2 separate regions of the Homo sapiens genome follow, and region 2 is linked to region 1. A link means that fine-mapping ties the variant in region 1 to the expression of a gene that starts in the linked region. Tissue or cell type: skeletal muscle. Region 1 holds a variant in brackets; the other region holds the start of a gene. All regions are shown on one strand. Distances are from middle to middle.

Evidence for each region. PIP is the estimated chance that this variant, and not a neighbour inherited with it, causes the effect.
Region 2: it holds the start of CFAP418, and the variant in region 1 is fine-mapped to the expression of CFAP418 in skeletal muscle (GTEx, PIP 0.91).

Annotation. Positions count from the first base shown.
Region 1 is chr8:95,287,229-95,295,569 of GRCh38, reverse strand. All of the region lies in intron 1 of CFAP418-AS1 (CFAP418 antisense RNA 1), which reads right to left. Among named protein-coding and RNA genes, the nearest start is that of TRS-AGA2-5, 22 kb to the right of the region's middle. The variant T/G (reference allele first, on the strand shown) is at 3,547.
Region 2 is chr8:95,264,471-95,272,811 of GRCh38, reverse strand. It overlaps CFAP418 (cilia and flagella associated protein 418), which reads left to right and starts at 3,611. Exons shown (of 6, transcript NM_177965.4): 1 at 3,611-3,777. The coding sequence starts at 3,623. It overlaps CFAP418-AS1 (CFAP418 antisense RNA 1), which reads right to left and starts at 3,976. Exons shown (of 4, transcript NR_038209.1): 1 at 3,922-3,976. It overlaps TRS-AGA2-5 (tRNA-Ser (anticodon AGA) 2-5), which reads left to right and starts at 3,074; the gene lies at 3,074-3,155. RefSeq lists enhancers at 2,870-2,949, 2,986-3,625, 3,580-4,019.

The DNA.
Region 1 (8,341 bases):
AGATATAAAGGAGACTGTAACCTCAATTACATCTTAGCAGCATGAGGTAATAGTGCTCTCAGAAGTGGATGTTTCCTTTTTAAAAGGAATTCAAGGACCTTTGTGATGATAGAAGAGTTCTGTATCCTGATTGTGATGGTGAACACACAAATCCACACATGATAAAATTGCATAGAACTATTCACACACACCCAAATAAGTGCATGTAAAACTGGTGAAATCTGCAAAAGATCTGTGGATTGCACCAATGTCGATTTCCTGGCTTGATATTGTACTCTAGTTAGGCAAGATGTGACCACTGGCGGAAATGAATTAAGGGTGTACAGCACCTTTCTGAACCATTCTGGCAGCCCGCTGTGAATCTATGGCTATTTCAAAATAAAAAGATTTTTTTAAGGAATTTGAGATTAAGGAATGTTATAATTGTGACTATGATCCACCCAGGACAGAAGGTGTCTGATTCTGCGACCGCTGTCAGAGTTCTAGACACAGCCCTGGAAGGAGACAGGGTAATCCATCCAGCTTCCTCAGCGTCCTAGAAACAAGTCTCCTCCTATGTAGCCCCTTTAACTATCCCAAGGATCCCACACCAGAGGCACACGTAAAAACCTATGGCAAATTCTGGACTCCAGCTCAGGAAATTCCTCCAGATGCCTCCCCAGGGCCAGCTTGAAGTCTCCTCATCACACATGCTTCTCGATTCTCTTGGCTTCTCGCCTTGGCTCCCTCGTGGCTTGTTGCCCAGGGTGGGGCTAGTAATGGTGCCCCAGACTCTTGGCACGGACCTGAGACTTCATGGGGCAAGACTTGGTCCTCACTCCTCAGCTCCAAGTTCTGATGTGCCTCTGAAAAATCAGGCTGAGGCCGTGTGACCTGGAGCCCAGAAAAAGTAATGATGTCCCCTGTTTCCTTACCCCTCCAATCCAATGAATATTTGTTACTGTCTTTGTTCAGGTTGTATTCTCAGCTAGCAACAATTAATCAATGATTTGGACTTTCCAGTAGATTCATTCACTGGGAGACAGTGATCAGAGAAAATAACCAATATTTATTATCATAGTTATTATACCCGTCATTGTAAAGAAATCCATTTCCACTCTGGTTTCAGCATGATTTAAGGCAGTCCCTCAGTACAGTATAGCAGTTATGACTCCAGAGCCAGGCTGCCTAGGTTTAAATCCTGGCTCTGTCCACACTTGCTCTGAAACCTTATATACTGCCACTTACTTGCTATGGGACCTCAGGCAAAAACCTCATTTCTCTGAGGCACTTTGTTTCCTCATCTGTAAAGTGGGATAATTAACAGAGCCTACCTCATAGGGCTGTTGAGAACATTAAATTGAGTAATACATCTAAAGTACTTCAAGTAGTGCCTACCTGCAGTAAGGGTTATATGGTAGTTATTATTACTGCCTGGAAGTTAATAAAATGTTGAAGACTGTAAAACTAAGAGACAGTCCTGTACCTATAAGGACTGAGTTAACCTTAAGCCCTGCCTCACTAGCAGACCCAAACTGAGAAATGGGCCAGCTTCTGAGACTTCTCTTGCCCCCAAGTCCCTATAGAATTGGTATTTGTTCTGCTTGTTGAGTTTTTAAAAAGGGCCACAAACCAATGCTAAGTTTTGCCCTTCAACATTAAAATCATCTGGCAAGTGATTCCGGGCAGAGAAACAACCTGCTGGGAGTCCATACAGACCTGTTGCTGCACTGACTCACCCATGGAATAAGAGTTGCAAAAACAGTCCATGTAAAGGTCTCTGAAAATATCTCAGGTAGCAGTGTTTTGACACAAGTACTGCTTGGGAAAGAAGCACAGTCAGTGAATACTTCGCATGGGACTAGGAGAAGTGAAACTGTTCTAGGCTCTATGATAACAGATCAACCAACTATTCCAGCAAAGTTGACCAAAGAAACTAACAAACTAATCATTTCATTCAATTAACTTGCCAGTTTAGTGAAAGATTCAGTTAACTTTGTGTTCAATTCCATCAAAAGTATTAAACATGTTTTGCTATGATCACAAGCTTTACCTGTAGCTCACTTGACAAAAAATAAAAATGACAGTTCACCCAGGGAAACATACAAGAGTTAGAAACTGGCTATCCATTTCGCAAACTTACCAAAACCAAAAATTAAGTTTGTATGGAAAGAGCTTAGAAAGTCAAGCTATAGTACCTGTCAATATCATTAAAATCTGGTTGCCCTAAAATGTGATTCTGGCTAAGCTGAAAGAAAAAAAAAGGAAAAGACATACCTTAAAAGCTGATCACAACACAATTAATAAATACCAAAGTAATGGCTGTATTTGAACAGGTGATGGGGTAATTAGGCAGGGAAAGTTGCTTGGGGCTGATTCCGACTGATTCCATTAAGTCAACCGGTGAAGTAATACTGCTGTTTCTCTGGAGACACAAGACATCTCTGAAGACCTCTTTTATTTTCCCTACCATGGGTCCCTGGGCCCCTGGAGGAGTTCCAAATGCAAAAATCCTACATCCATACTTTGCACAGATTTCAGAAGTTGGCAAAATAAAACCAGAGATTTTTTTAAAATGACACAATCTCAAGGATCAATAGAACTACTAATAGAAGACCAAGACCTAATAGAATTCTCCTAATTGTCCATTCGTGGAAATGTTATTAGAAGTGGGGTGGGGGGTTGGAGAATGGAGCTGGAACACGAAAGTACCAAATAACAGCCAATATTTGTTGGGTGCTTACGATGAGGCAGGCATGCTTCTAAGCGCTCCTGTGCATTAATTTATCTAATTCTCAGGAGAGTGGTGTTATCAGTTCCATTTCACAGATGAGGAAAACTGAGATGCAAAAAGATTAAGCATCCTCCCCAAGATCCACAGTGAATAAGTGGCAGAGTTGGGATATTTTATCCAGGCAGTATGGCATCAGAGGTTATTTAGTTCAATACTACACTATGAGGCCAAACAGAAGACCCTCCCTTAAACAATGCACCATGGGGCCAGATGAATCCATTGTGACCCCATCAGCTTAGGCGTACCTCCAGCAACAGTGGAGGTACATCTAAGAGCATGGGGCCAGTGTTTGAAAAGATACAGGCACTGGGACCTGTGGAGCAAACCCAATGACATCTCTTTTTTAAATGTATTTTATTGTCTTAAAATGAATTAAGTGTACAATACATTATTGTTGACTATAGGTACAATGTTGTACAACAGATCTGAGAACTCATTTGTCTTGTTAACTAAACTTTTATGCCCAGTGATTAGTAATCCTCATTTCCCTCTTCCCCCAGCCCCTAGTAATTACCGTACTACTCTTTGATTCTTTGAATTTGACTATTTTAGATATCTCATACAAGTGGAATCTTCTGTGACTGGCTCATTATTGTACTTAGCATTATGTACTCAAGGTTCATCTATGTGGTCATATAGTGCAGAATTTCCTTCTTTATTAAGGCTGAGTAGTATCCCACTGTATATATATACATTTTCTTCATCCGTCTCTCAATGGACACTAAGTTTGTTTCCACCTTTTTTGCTGCAATAAACACTGGAGTGCTACTATC[T/G]CTTCAAGATTCTCATTTCAACTGTTTTGGATAAACACCCAGAAGTGGGATTGCTGGATCATATGGTAGTTCTAGTTTTTAGTTTTTGAGGAACCTCCACACTTTCTCTTAGCAGCTACACCATTTTGCATTCCCACCTACAGTGTACAAGATTTCCAATTTGTCCACATCCTCACCAACAGATGTAGTCTTTTGTTTTGTTTTTTGATAATAGCTACCCTAACAGGTATGAGATAATATTTCATTGTGGTTTTGGTTTGCACTACCCTGATGATTAGTGACATTGAGCATTTTTAATATACTTGGCCATTTGTGTGTCTCCTTTAGAGATTAGACCATTATCCTCTATCATACACAAAAATCAACTCAATGTGGGTCAGAGACTTAAATTTATGACCTGAAATTATAAAAACTCCTAGAAGAAAACATAAGGAAGAAGTCAATGATTTCATGAATATGGCACCAAAAGCACAGGCAATGAAAACAAAAATAAGTCAATTACATCAAACTAAAAAGCTTCTGAACAGCAAAGGAGACAAGTAAGAGAGTGAAAAGGCAACCTATGGAATGAGAGAGAATACTTGCAAACCATACATCTGATACAGGGTTAAACTCCAGAATACCTCAGAACCCTCTACAACTGAATTTTTTTTTTAAAGTAACCTGATTTGTTCTTTTTGCTTAGAATTGCTTTGGTTATTACACACATACTTGGTTTTATATAAATTCTAGCACTGTTTTTTTCTAATTCTGTGAAAAAAACACATTGGTAATTTGATAATTGCATTGAATTTATAGATTGGTTTGTGTAGTACACTTATTTTAAAAATATTGGTTCTTTTGAAAAAAAAACTGGGCTAAGAACTTGAATAGACATTTCTCCAGTGACATATTTATAAGATTGGGAAGAGGGAAAAAAAGGAAGAAATTAGTGCTGTAACAAAATATTCACCAGGTATCAGTTTTTTTCTTATGAGCCTTTGCACAGCCTCTATAGGCTGGCCACATCCACAGGGGTTCTGTGCCTGGGAGGCATGGAAAACACTCTAAAACAGTGTCCTGGTAGCCATTTAAAAAAGGGTGGACTTAGAAAACAGCAATAATGAAGTGTGATTCCCCATTACTGCAGCCCTGCCAGGCCCTATAAACCATCTGAGAGCTCCTAGCACCTGTGGCACTAAGGCCCCAAAGCAAGTGAGGGGAGAAGGGAGTGGCTACCTTTCCTGTTTCAGAGATGTAGAAAGAGGTGAAGGATGATAAAGCCTGCTAGTGCACAGAAAGGAACACTCTCATCACAAGGAAAAGATATAGCCACCTGAAAAGTAAAAGTAATTATTATTATTATTAGTGAGAAATGAAATAATTAGTCTGGGAGCAGAGACCTGGCTATTAAGTATGTGTCTCACGAAACAGTCAAATATGGGCAAAGATCACAAAAAGAACTAGAATGGAGATAAGTGGAGTTATTTAGAAAATGAAAAAATATATATTTTTAAATCATCAGCTACAGTTAAGAATGGCCAAAATCTGAGCGCTTGTTTACAGAGGAAATTGACTGGAAACCCAGAGAGGTGTCCTCGGTCTACTCAGAGTTCTTGTTGGACCCTTCTAAGGAAGATAGAGGTGTTTGCTGTCCTTCATCCCAGGAAGCTGTCCTGAGTAGGGCAAGGCGGCATCACCCAAGCCATATGGAGCTTTCAAAGGAAAGAAGGAGAGGACAGTGAAGGTAAACCAGCTGTTTCTCACTGGGTTAGAAAAACTTCCAGAAAACCACACAGAGCCTTCTAAATGATGGGACATGCTGAACATGCCAAAGAGAAAGGTCCCATTGGGATGGCATTGGAGGGTATTTTCCCCCTTTACTTGTAATGATTCAAACACTGATGGATGCCATGCAAAATTGAGGAAGCAGTGGGGGGAAGGGGGATCTTGATGGAGCTCATGTATGCAACATATGGAACAAGTTATTGAAGAAAGTGCTTCTAACAGAGTTTATGAAAGTTAAGAAGAGGCAGTTATGCTTCTTTTAGAGACAGCAAAGATTAAGGGCGTGGTGAAAAAAATAGCGAAACAGGATTAAGATAAAGCAAAACAGAGGAGAAATATTGGACCAGATGAACTTTCACCTTCCCTAAAATGATTTATGTACTTATGAAGAGCTAGACTGGACTTGATTTCAGGGGGTGAGAGTTGCTGGTGAACCTGCATGTACCCAGTATTTCTGCAGAAATTCTGGACAAATCTACACTTCTACAGGCAAAGCCAACACTGAACATGCATGGTGATGAGGTTCTCTATTTAAATAGGACAAACACTTACTTGAGCACCTCATTCAGAGTAACAAAGAGAGAAGGAAATAAAAAAGGAAACAGCATCTGAATATAAAGAAATCTAAGTAAAGAAGTGGCTTTTTGTAATGCTCCAGTTTTTTTATCTTTGTTCTAGAAAATAATCATTTCTCTCTGTTTCATTTATGACTTATTGGTGTCAGAACTCAAGAGAGGCTCAAATGTGACAAAAGGCCCTGTGAGGACCCAACAAGATCTAACCAGTCTATTTCACAGTGGCTTAGGCCAGAGAGGATTGGGCAGAACAAAAATGGTTAGCATAGTGGTGAGCTAAATGTCAGTGTGTCTGACTAACTGTCACAGGGGAAAGCAGGAGCCAGAATCACCAGGAGATGAAGCGTAAGACTTGGAAACTTTACTGCATTGCAGGTAGTGGATGGGGAGGTTGAGGGAATGCAGACTAGCCAAGTCCAAGGCCCAAAGAGCCAGCTGAGGGTTGAGCCTGGAAGCTTTGCTAAGGGTTGAGATCCATGGAAGGGTCATGAAATCAAGGTAGCCAATATTTCTCCAGAATTTTAAAAGTAGAATAAGATAGGACAGGATAGGATAAGATATACAATAGATTATACTAGAAGAGTGAATTACACTCTACTAAGGATAAGTATTGTTTAGTGAAACTTTTAATTCAGAGGGGGTATATGTGGGTGTGTGTAGTGTTTCTGTGTACTGGGTCATTATATAATGACTCAAAAAAGTTTGAAACCACTGATAAAAGAGGCTCAAATAAAAATAGAGGAGGAGGAAAGAAAGTGTTATAAAATAGGAAAAACCCTGAGATCACTACACCTCTGGATTTAGATGTGTCTATAACTTTCCTTATTGTATTACCTTCCTTATTGGGTCAGGTTTTCTATTGCTTGATGCTGACTAAATCACAAGGTAGCAAGGCTGAAGTGAAGATTCAATTAGATAATCTGGAGTTGGACATGGTAGCTCACACCTGTAATCCCAGCACCTTGGGAAGCTGAGGCGGGAGGATCATTTGAGGCCAGGAATTGGAGACCAGACTGGGGAAGATGGTGAAATCCTGTCTCCACAAAAAATTTAAAAATTAGCCAGACAAGCCATATGCAGAAAACTGAAACCGGACCCCTTCCTTATATGTTATACAAAAATTAACTCAAGATGGATTAAAGACTTAAATGTAAGACCTAAAACCATAAAAACCCTAGAGGAAAACCTAGGCAATACTATTCAGGACAGAAGCATGGGCAAAGACTTCATGACTAAAACACCAAAAGCAATGGCAACAAAAGCCAAAATTGACAAATGGGATCCAATTAAACTAAAGAGCTTCCACACAGCAAAAGAAAGTATCATCAGAGTGAACAGGCAACCTACAGAATGGGGGAAACTTTTTGCAATCTACCCATCTGACAAAGGGCTAATATCCAGAATCTACAAAGAACTCAAACAAATTTACAAGAAAAAAAAACAAACAACCCCATCAAAAAGTGGACAAAGGATACGAACAGACACTTCTCAAAAGAAGACATTTATGTGGCCAACAAACATATGAAAAAAAGCTCATCATCACTCGTCATTAGAGAAATGCAAATCAAAACCACAATGAGATACCATCTCACACCAGTTAGAATGGCAATCATTAAAAAGTCAGGAAACAACAGATGCTGGAGAGGATGTGGAGAAATAGGAACACTTTTACACTGTTGGTGGGAATATAAATTAGTTCAACCATTTGTGGAAGACAGTGTGGCAATTCCTCAAGGATCTAGAAACAGAAATACCATTTGACCCGGCAATCCCATTACTGTGTATATACCCAAAGGATTATAAATCATTCTACTATAAAGACACAGGCACACGTATGTTTATTGCAGTACTATTCACAATAGCAAAGACTGGAACCAACCCATAATGCCCATCAATGATAGACTGGATAAAGAAAATGTGGCACATATATACCATGGAATACTATGCAGCCATAAAAAAGGATGAGTTCATGTCCTTTGTAGGGACATGGATGAAGCTGGAAACCATCATTCTCAGCAAACACAGAAACAGAAAACCAAACACCGTATGTTCTCACTAATAAGTGGGAGTTGAACAAGCAGAAAACATGGACACAGGGAGGGGAACATCACACACCGGGGCCAGTTGGGGGTGGGGGGCTAGGGGAGGGATAGCATTAGGAGAAATATCTAATGTAGATAACGGGTTGATGCATGCAGTAAACCACCATGGCACGTGTACACCTATGTAACAAACCTGCACATTCTGCACATGTATCCCAGAACTTAAAGTATAATAAATTAAAATAAAATAAAATAAAACATTAGCCAGACATGGTGGTGTGCACCTGTAATCCCAGCTACTCAGGAGGCTGAGGTGGGAGGATCCCTTGGGCCCAGGAGATCGAAGCCGCAGTGAGCTATATTGTGCCACTGAACTCCAGCCTGGGCAAGAGAGTTTTTTATTTTTTTCTC
Region 2 (8,341 bases), 23 kb after region 1:
TGTTACTCTTATGTGACATATGGCATTTCTCCTTGTAGACTCTGAACTCAACCTTTCACTCTCGGTGGCAAACCAGAAAGAGAACATGACTCAAGTCAGGAGACCCACCGGAGAGTTGAATGAGCCATAAATGAAATTCTCAAAATACCAAACTCTGGATGATCCATACATCCATTTTATTAAAATGGGAGTGGGCAGGAATGGAAAACCAAGTATCATATGTTCTCACTCGTAAGTAGGAGTTAATTTATGGGTACACAAAGGCATACAGAGTGGCATAATGGACACTGGAGACTCAGAAGAGAGGAGGACGGGTGAGGGGTAAAGGATAGTAACACTATCTATTGGAGGCTGGGTGTGATGGCTCACGCCTGTAATCCCAGCACTTTGGGAGGCTGAGGCGGGCGGATCACCTGAGGTCAGGAGTTCGAGACCAGCCTGAACAGCATGGAGAAACCCTGTCTCTACTAAAAATACAAAATTAGCCCGGCATGGTGGCACATGCCTGTAATCCCAGCTACTTGGGAGGCTGAGGCAGGAGAATCACTTGAACCCAGGAAGCAGAGGTTGTGGTGAGCAGAGATCAAACCATTGCACACTCCAGCCTGGGCAGCAAGAGCAAAACTCCGTCTGGGAAAAAAAAAAAAAAAAAAAGAACACTACCTTTTGGGTATAATGTACACTACTCGGGTGACAGGTGCACTAAAATTTCAGACTTCACCACTATACAATTCATCCATGTAACCAAAAACCGCTTGTACCCCAAAAGCTACTGAAAGTAAATAAAATCAATAAAATGAAATTTTAAAATGTAAACGGAATAAATTATCCAATCAAAAGACCAGAAAAATGGGAGTAGAAGTGAGGGAGCGAGGGAACACACTAATTTTTTTCTAATATACACAAAAAACAAAACACAGAAAACCAGAAACATTTTCTCTTTTATTTTTTCACCATCTCTCATTGCAAATCTTCTACACGCTAATAGATTCTTTTTTTTTTTTTTTTTTTTTTTTGAGACGGAGTCTCGCTCTGTGGCCCAAGCTGGAGTGCTGTGGCGCGATCTTGGCTCACTGCAAGCTCCGCCTCCCGGGTTCACGCCATTCTCCTGCCTCAACCTCCCGAGTAGCTGCCAGTACAGGCGCCCGCCACCACGCTCAGCTAATTTTTTGTATTTTTAGTAAAGACGGGGTTTCACCGTGTTAGCCAGGATGGTCTCCATCTCCTGACCTCGTGATCCGCCCGCCTCGGCCTCCCAAAGTGCTGGGATTACAGGCGTGAGCCACCGCGCCCGGCCGCTAACAGATACTTTCAACATTGGTACAGATCCCCTCAGATTTCATCTTCTCAAGAGCAAAATCAAATCATTAATGTAAGCCTGTTAAACTGGATGGCCACTAACTATGACTTCCCCTGGAACCATGTTGCAAGGACCGCTTTTTCAAGCAGCTTTTCCTTGCCTTTCTGCTAGAGACCGGTTCTAGGTAAAATCGCCCAGCAAGGCAACTTGGAAAAAAACTTTAAAAAATTAATTAGTTGGAAATCATAGAATATGCCAGGATTCTAGACAAATAACTAGTGTCCGAGTCCCCTCCTTGCCCCAACATTGTCTCCCCACCCTCTAGAGTTCTCTACTCTGACTACAAGGGTAATACATGTCAGGGTGCCTCTAGGATACTACTTAAGCATCCTGACAGTGTCTGATCTGAGTGGTCAGTGCTCAATGTTAAGTATTTTGCATAAAAATGCTAGTTTCCCCTGTGTGTGTAAATATACATATATGTTTATATGCATATTTGTGTGTGTGTGTGTGTGTGTGTGTGTGTGTGTGTTTAGGCCAGGATTCTAATAGCTAAAACAAAGATTCAGAGACAATAAATAGAGCAGCCCTGCAGAAAAGGGGAGTGTTGCCTTGCTGAGAATATTCACAGTTGGTCTGATGGTAACATGGGGTGTTCTACTAAATGACAGTTTGATCTAGATGATTTGTTTGTTCAAAGTATCTTTCATCTCCTAGGGATAAAAAGCCCTGCTTTGTCACATTTGCAATTTCCCTCATGTAAATAACACCCACTATGGCTCATTTCAAGCTTCCCAAGTGACATCACTGAATGGAAAGTTAAAGAGAGAAAGTCTTTCAGATGTAAACAATCTCAATTATATTTATAAATAATAGTAAAAGGTAGTGGAATCACTAGCATATGAATTTTGAGTATCATATTTGCTTTTAACATAATGTAATTGCAAGTTTGCATAATTTAATATTTAATAATAATTGCATTTAACAACTAGCTCCCAAAATCCTTGAAAATTTATCACTGGGTAGGAGTGAGCATGTCCCATTGGCTCCAGCACACCACTACATGTTGCTCTTCAGGGACCTTAAAAGATACTTTGAACAAACAAATCATCTGGATCAAACTATCTCCAGAGTTCCCAAGGGTGCCAACCTCTTTGCTACCCCACTTTAGAAATACCCAAAACACAGGTTAAACTATGCACAGTATTTATTAAGAATGCCATTTACAATACCTTACACTTGTATCACGCTTTACACTTTTCAAAGTAGTGCTTTTATGGCACGGTGGGACTGTCTGACCCTGCAGAGTGAATTTAAATCGCTGGGTAATAGCTTTTTAATGTATAATGGGTGAAAAGATAGTCCTGGGAGCCGTTTGTCAAAGAGAAAGGCGAAGGAGTGGAACTGGCAGCCCCACAAGGAAGTCGGGAAGCTGGTTGGCCCCTACCCGGTTCCTGGTTCTCTCCTGGAAATGGCTCCAACATTGTGCAAGCAAGTGGGTGTGCAATAGTTTTGAGCACGCATCTCTCTCTCTGTCTCTCTCTCTCTCTCTCTCGGATTTAATTAGAATTTCCGTTTTTTCCAACAAAGAGTTGGACGGGATACGTTCTAAGACTTTTACAAACTGTAAAATGATGAGCGAGGTAACATTCAAATATGCTCTTAACAGAACAGCTCAGTAATGGTTTCCTCCACATCAAAACGTGCCTATTGCTGCAGCAGACGCTTATGCAGAGTCTACATGCACTCTCACCGCAAAAATTCACACAGCCAGTAGTCGTGGCCGAGTGGTTAAGGCGATGGACTAGAAATCCATTGGGGTCTCCCCGCGCAGGTTCGAATCCTGCCGACTACGGGAATGTCAGCTTTTTGCCGTCAACACTTACTTTTTGTGTTTTAGAGCGTTCTGCTCAAACCTTCCACAGATTTCAGGAATTTACAAACGGCTGAAACACAACAGGGACCCAAACGGGAGAGGAGAGAATGAAGGGGCGAGAATGCGTGCTTGTGGTTACAACGTGGGCCCGGGAGGGGGAGACGGGAGGAACCACGCCAGACATGCTGAAAGGAAGAAACGCAAAGCATCGCGAGTCACACAGACACACTGCAGAGACAGCTCCGAACTCTGTCCCTGCATACGCCCGCCCCTCACGAACCCACCGCGTTCTCTGCCGCGAGCCCTCGTGGGCGCCGGGTTGCCACGGGAAGCGGTGCGCATGCGCGGGGACGCCTAACGGGGCAGGAGCCCGCCAGGTCCCCTCGTTACTCCTGGAAACCACCGGAGCCTTGGCGATTGGAGGGGAAAAGGCCAGGCGATTCAAGATGGCGGAGGACCTGGACGAGCTCTTGGATGAAGTCGAGTCCAAGTTTTGCACACCTGACCTTCTAAGACGGGGTATGGTCGAGCAGCCCAAAGGCTGCGGCGGCGGCACCCACAGTAGCGACCGGAACCAAGCCAAGGCGAAAGAGACGCTCAGGTTAACCGGGCGGGAGGGGTGGACTGTTCTGGTAAAGCCCTGCTCCAGGCCCTAGAGCTGCCCCTCCGCCGCCCAACCCAAAAGAAACGTGCCCGCGACCTCCAGCCCCTCCTTGCATCAGGGTTCAGACCCTCAGCGCCCTACCCTCCGCGGCAGCGCATTCGTCGACCCTCTTCGCGGATTCTGGCACCTCTTCACTCAGCGCAGACTCCGCCCCCCGGCATGCCCCAGAGGGCTGGCCCCCGCCCCGCCCCGCCCCGCCCCGCCCCGCCCCGCCCCGCCCGCAGAGCCCGCAGTCCGCGCCAGTCTCCTTCATCCTGTTTCTGGCTGCCAGCGCGTAGGAGGTTCTAGTCGGGGACCGGGATACCCCTCAGGCGCCCCGTTCTTAACCCCGAGAGGGCTGTGCTGACCTCGGCCGCATTTTGCCTCTGTGTGGCCAAGCGGTTCTCATCTCCCTGTGAGGTGCCCTGTTAGACAGCCTCATCCCATTGCCTCAGACCCCACTCCCCAGGTCAATCCTATTTGTCTTTAGCTCAGTTTTGTTGTTTTGTTTGTTTTTTGAGATGGAGTCTCGCTCTGTCGCCCAGGTTGGAGTGCAGTGGCACGATCGTAGCTCACTGCAGCCTCCAACTCCCGGGTTCAAAGATCCTCCCACCTCGGCCTACCCTAGCTGGGATTACAGGCACGAGCCTGTAATCTGGGATTACGTAAACTGGGATTACAGGCACGAGCCCGGTTAATTTGTATTTTTTGTAGAGACAGTCTCACTGTGTTGGCCAGGCTGGTCTTGAACTCCTGAGTTCAAGCTGTCCTCCCGCCTCTGCCTCCCCTAACTGCTAGGATTACAGTTGCGAGCCATCGCACCTGACTCAGTTTGTTTTATTTTTTTAACTCAGGGAGTTAAGATGAGATTAAATTCATTACAAAAGGGTTAATTATTGTGAACATTAAACCGTCTACCTTCCTTCTCTCCATGGCCCCCTAGTTAAGGGTGCCAGACATACATATGGAAATTTAAGGACATTTCTTAAGGTATTTTGGTTTTTTATCTAAAAACTACCTTTCAAATTTACCAGTCGTTTTTCCTCCATGTAATTATTAAATAATAGGATTTCCTTCACTTCCTCATTTCCCCCACAACCCCTCAAAAAAAAAAAACAAAATGTTTGCATAAGAATATTGACCTTCAGTAACTCTTGCTAGAATCTTTTGGAAATTGCCTCTTGCCTAGAATATTTTGGAAACGCTTGTGAAATTACACGGAGGCAACTTTGGATCAATCTAAGAACGTCATCTCCGTTAATTTTTTTGCTGCATCTTTGGTTTGGTTTTGGTTTTTTGGTGTGTGTATGTGTGATTTCCCAAAGTATTATCCAACTCTGTTACTATCCAGTTCACCTGGCTTACCTCCAGTGATATTTATTTATTTTATTTACTTATTTATTTATTTTTGAGTTTCGCTCTGTCGCCCAGGCTGGAGTGCAGTGGCCCACCTCAGCTCACTGCAAGCTCCGCCTCCCATTCCCCTGCCTCAGCCTCCCGAGTAGCTGAGACTACAGGCGCCCGCCACCACGCCTGGCTAATTTTTTGTATTTCTGGTAGAAACGGGGTTTCACCGTGTTAGCCAGGATGGTCTCGATCTCCTGACCTCGTGATCCACCCACCTCGGCCTCCCAAAGTGCTGGGATTACAGGCATGAGCCACCGTGCCCAGTCAGTGACATTTATTTATAAAAATTCACTCTGCGAAGATAAAAGCATCGAAAAAATTCTAAAGGAGTACATAAACAAAATTTCTAAAAATTAGTTGAGTTCTGAGCAGCATTTTAAAACAAAAATTAGAAACAACTATAATTACTATGAATGGGCTAACACTCATTTGGCTGGATGTTGTAAATATCACTCTCATTAACTTTTATTATCTTGTGTACTGGAATTCCTTATGTATCTATTAGCGCATCTACCATCCCTATCCCACAACAGTGTTGCTTTGCAATTTCTTTAGTACTTTTCGTTTGTCCTTCTAGGGGATAGAACTAGTCTATCAAGGAGCTTTTCAGAGCTGTTCATCTTAGGAGAACTAGCATGCGGAGGGGCAGGATGTATTGAAGCCAGCTGCTCAAAATGGAAAGGACTATTTATGTGGATCTTCTCCAACCATGGGTTGTGTCATGCCTGTTCTTGCTCTACTAAAATTCATCCATAATATTTCTAGTACCTCAGCCCACCTTAATACATTAGATTTTTTTAGTACTAAGTAACATAAAAGCCTTAGTGAAACAGTACTGTTGTCATTTATATTAAAACTTTTCATCTGGCAATGTAGTTGTAAATTGTACAAAAAACAGCAACAAAGGGCCTAAACCTTATACCAAATATAGTCCCAACCTGGTTTATAATGTTATATATTAAAATTTTTCCTTGAGCCAAAATTTATACTTAAAAGCTAGGAAGCAATTTATGTTTGAATTTATTGACAGGAGATTACCTACTAATTGTATAGCAGTGTAACCTGTATCTCTTATAAGAGTTAAAATACTAATATTACCTCTTAAAATGATACTATAAATGCAAATAATACTATAAATGACCATGCTACATCTGGATACCAGGAACAACTGCTAATGTAAGAGGTCAAAACATGCAATTTGTTGAAGTGTTCAAAATGATAAAAAGAAATATGTGATTAGTAAAAAAATTAAAAAAGACTGATGTGGGTTGAGAAGAACTGCAATAGGAATAAAGTGGTTCAGGATGATACAGATGGGAATATTTAAAGATAATATAGCTTTCTAGATGATAACTATAATAACAGCCAACATTTATTGAGCTCTTTCTGTATGCTAAGTGCTTTGTATATGTTATTTCATTTAATCTTCACAATCCCATGCGTGAATACTGTTATCCCCATTTCATTGACCAAATCAATGCTTAGTTACTTGCCTAAAGTCATATTGCTAAATCACAAGGACATAGTAGATCTAGATTTAAGCTTTCTATATAATACCTCTCACATTTAATTATAGGTTTAAGTGTTTATATTTTATCTTAAATATATGTTTTATTTTCAGCAGAAACTATATCTTTAAAAGATTAGAATGTCAGAAACAGAGTCAGAAAGGGAACCAGTAAAAGCTTATTAACATTTGATTGAGATTATTGTCACATCAAAAGACCAAAAAGAGTCTTATACAGTCCTTTAAAATTATGAGTTCTCAATGAAATGTTGACTTTATTGTTATTACTATAGCAAAGCATAGGCAAGTGTAGGCATTTTGAAATTGTGTGATCTAAGAACAGACCAGAATCTTATGTAAGCTGGTAATTTGGATCTGTAACAGTACTGATTAGGTTGGTGGAGTTTGGATGTATCTGATTCTTGAAATTGTGAAATTGCATGAGGGAGGAGAACCCGGAAAGTATGTCCTGAAAGCCAAAGGAGAGAATTTTAAGAGGACATCTTAGCAACCTCTTATCGAAAAAGAAATATAAGGAATTGGTACCCAACAGTGTCAGATGCTTCTGAAAGATTAAAGAGGATTGGAACTGAGAACCACCATTAGATTGTAGTGATTTGGGCAGTGGAAACCTTCGAGAGAAGAGTTTCACTATAGTTGAGGGATTAGAGGCCAGAAGTAGAATATTATACCTGAAAGAAATTTTAAATAGTCATCTAGATATCATTTTTATAGATAAAATATTTGAGTTTCAGAGAGATTAAATAATTTAAACTAAGTCGGTATCTCTAGACTGGTGATGATTTTGCCACCCAAGGGGCATTTGGCAATGTCTGGAGACATTTTTTATTGTCGCACCTGGGGAAGGGTGTGCTATTATTTAATAGCATCTAGTGGGTAGATGCTGTAAAATGTCCTGCAATATACAACAGTCTCCTGCCCCCACATACACACCCCAGAGAATTATCTGACCCAAAATGTCCATAATTCCAAGGCTGAGAAACCCCCGCCTAGGATTAGCACCCAACTGATTCTAAATCTAGTCTACTTGTAAGGAAGTAGAAATCGTGGATATAGACTATTCTTCAGTAGTGAGTAAGAAAGGGTGGCAGCTTCAAGACAGGGGTTTTTTGAAGTGTCTCTTTGAAGAAGCAAGCCTTGAGCATACCTCTAAGTCAAAGGAAGAAACCAGTATACAGTGAAAGACATTAAGGGTAAAAGTTACAGTACAACTGAAGAGGCTAAGCCTGGAGACAGAATCAACCATTAGGTAGTAGGCAGCCGTCTCTTGCTTTTCTTATATCAGGTTAAATTATTTTACTCCAAGATGTAATGAAGAAGGCCTATGTTAAAAATTGTCAGAGTAAATACATTTCTGAAATTAGAGAGTTTGACTAAAAAACTTGTCTTCTAAAACAAATAATTTAATGAAGTTATAAAGTTGATGTACAGCATCTACTTCATACAAACGCTAAAGAAAGTTAATCTTGTATAGTATTAAGTGCACGGACTGCCCTAGATTCAATTCCAAGCCTTTTCTCCCACTACTTATATGACCTTGAACAGATTTCTGAATCTCTCAGTGCCTTTTCTTCATCTATAAAACTG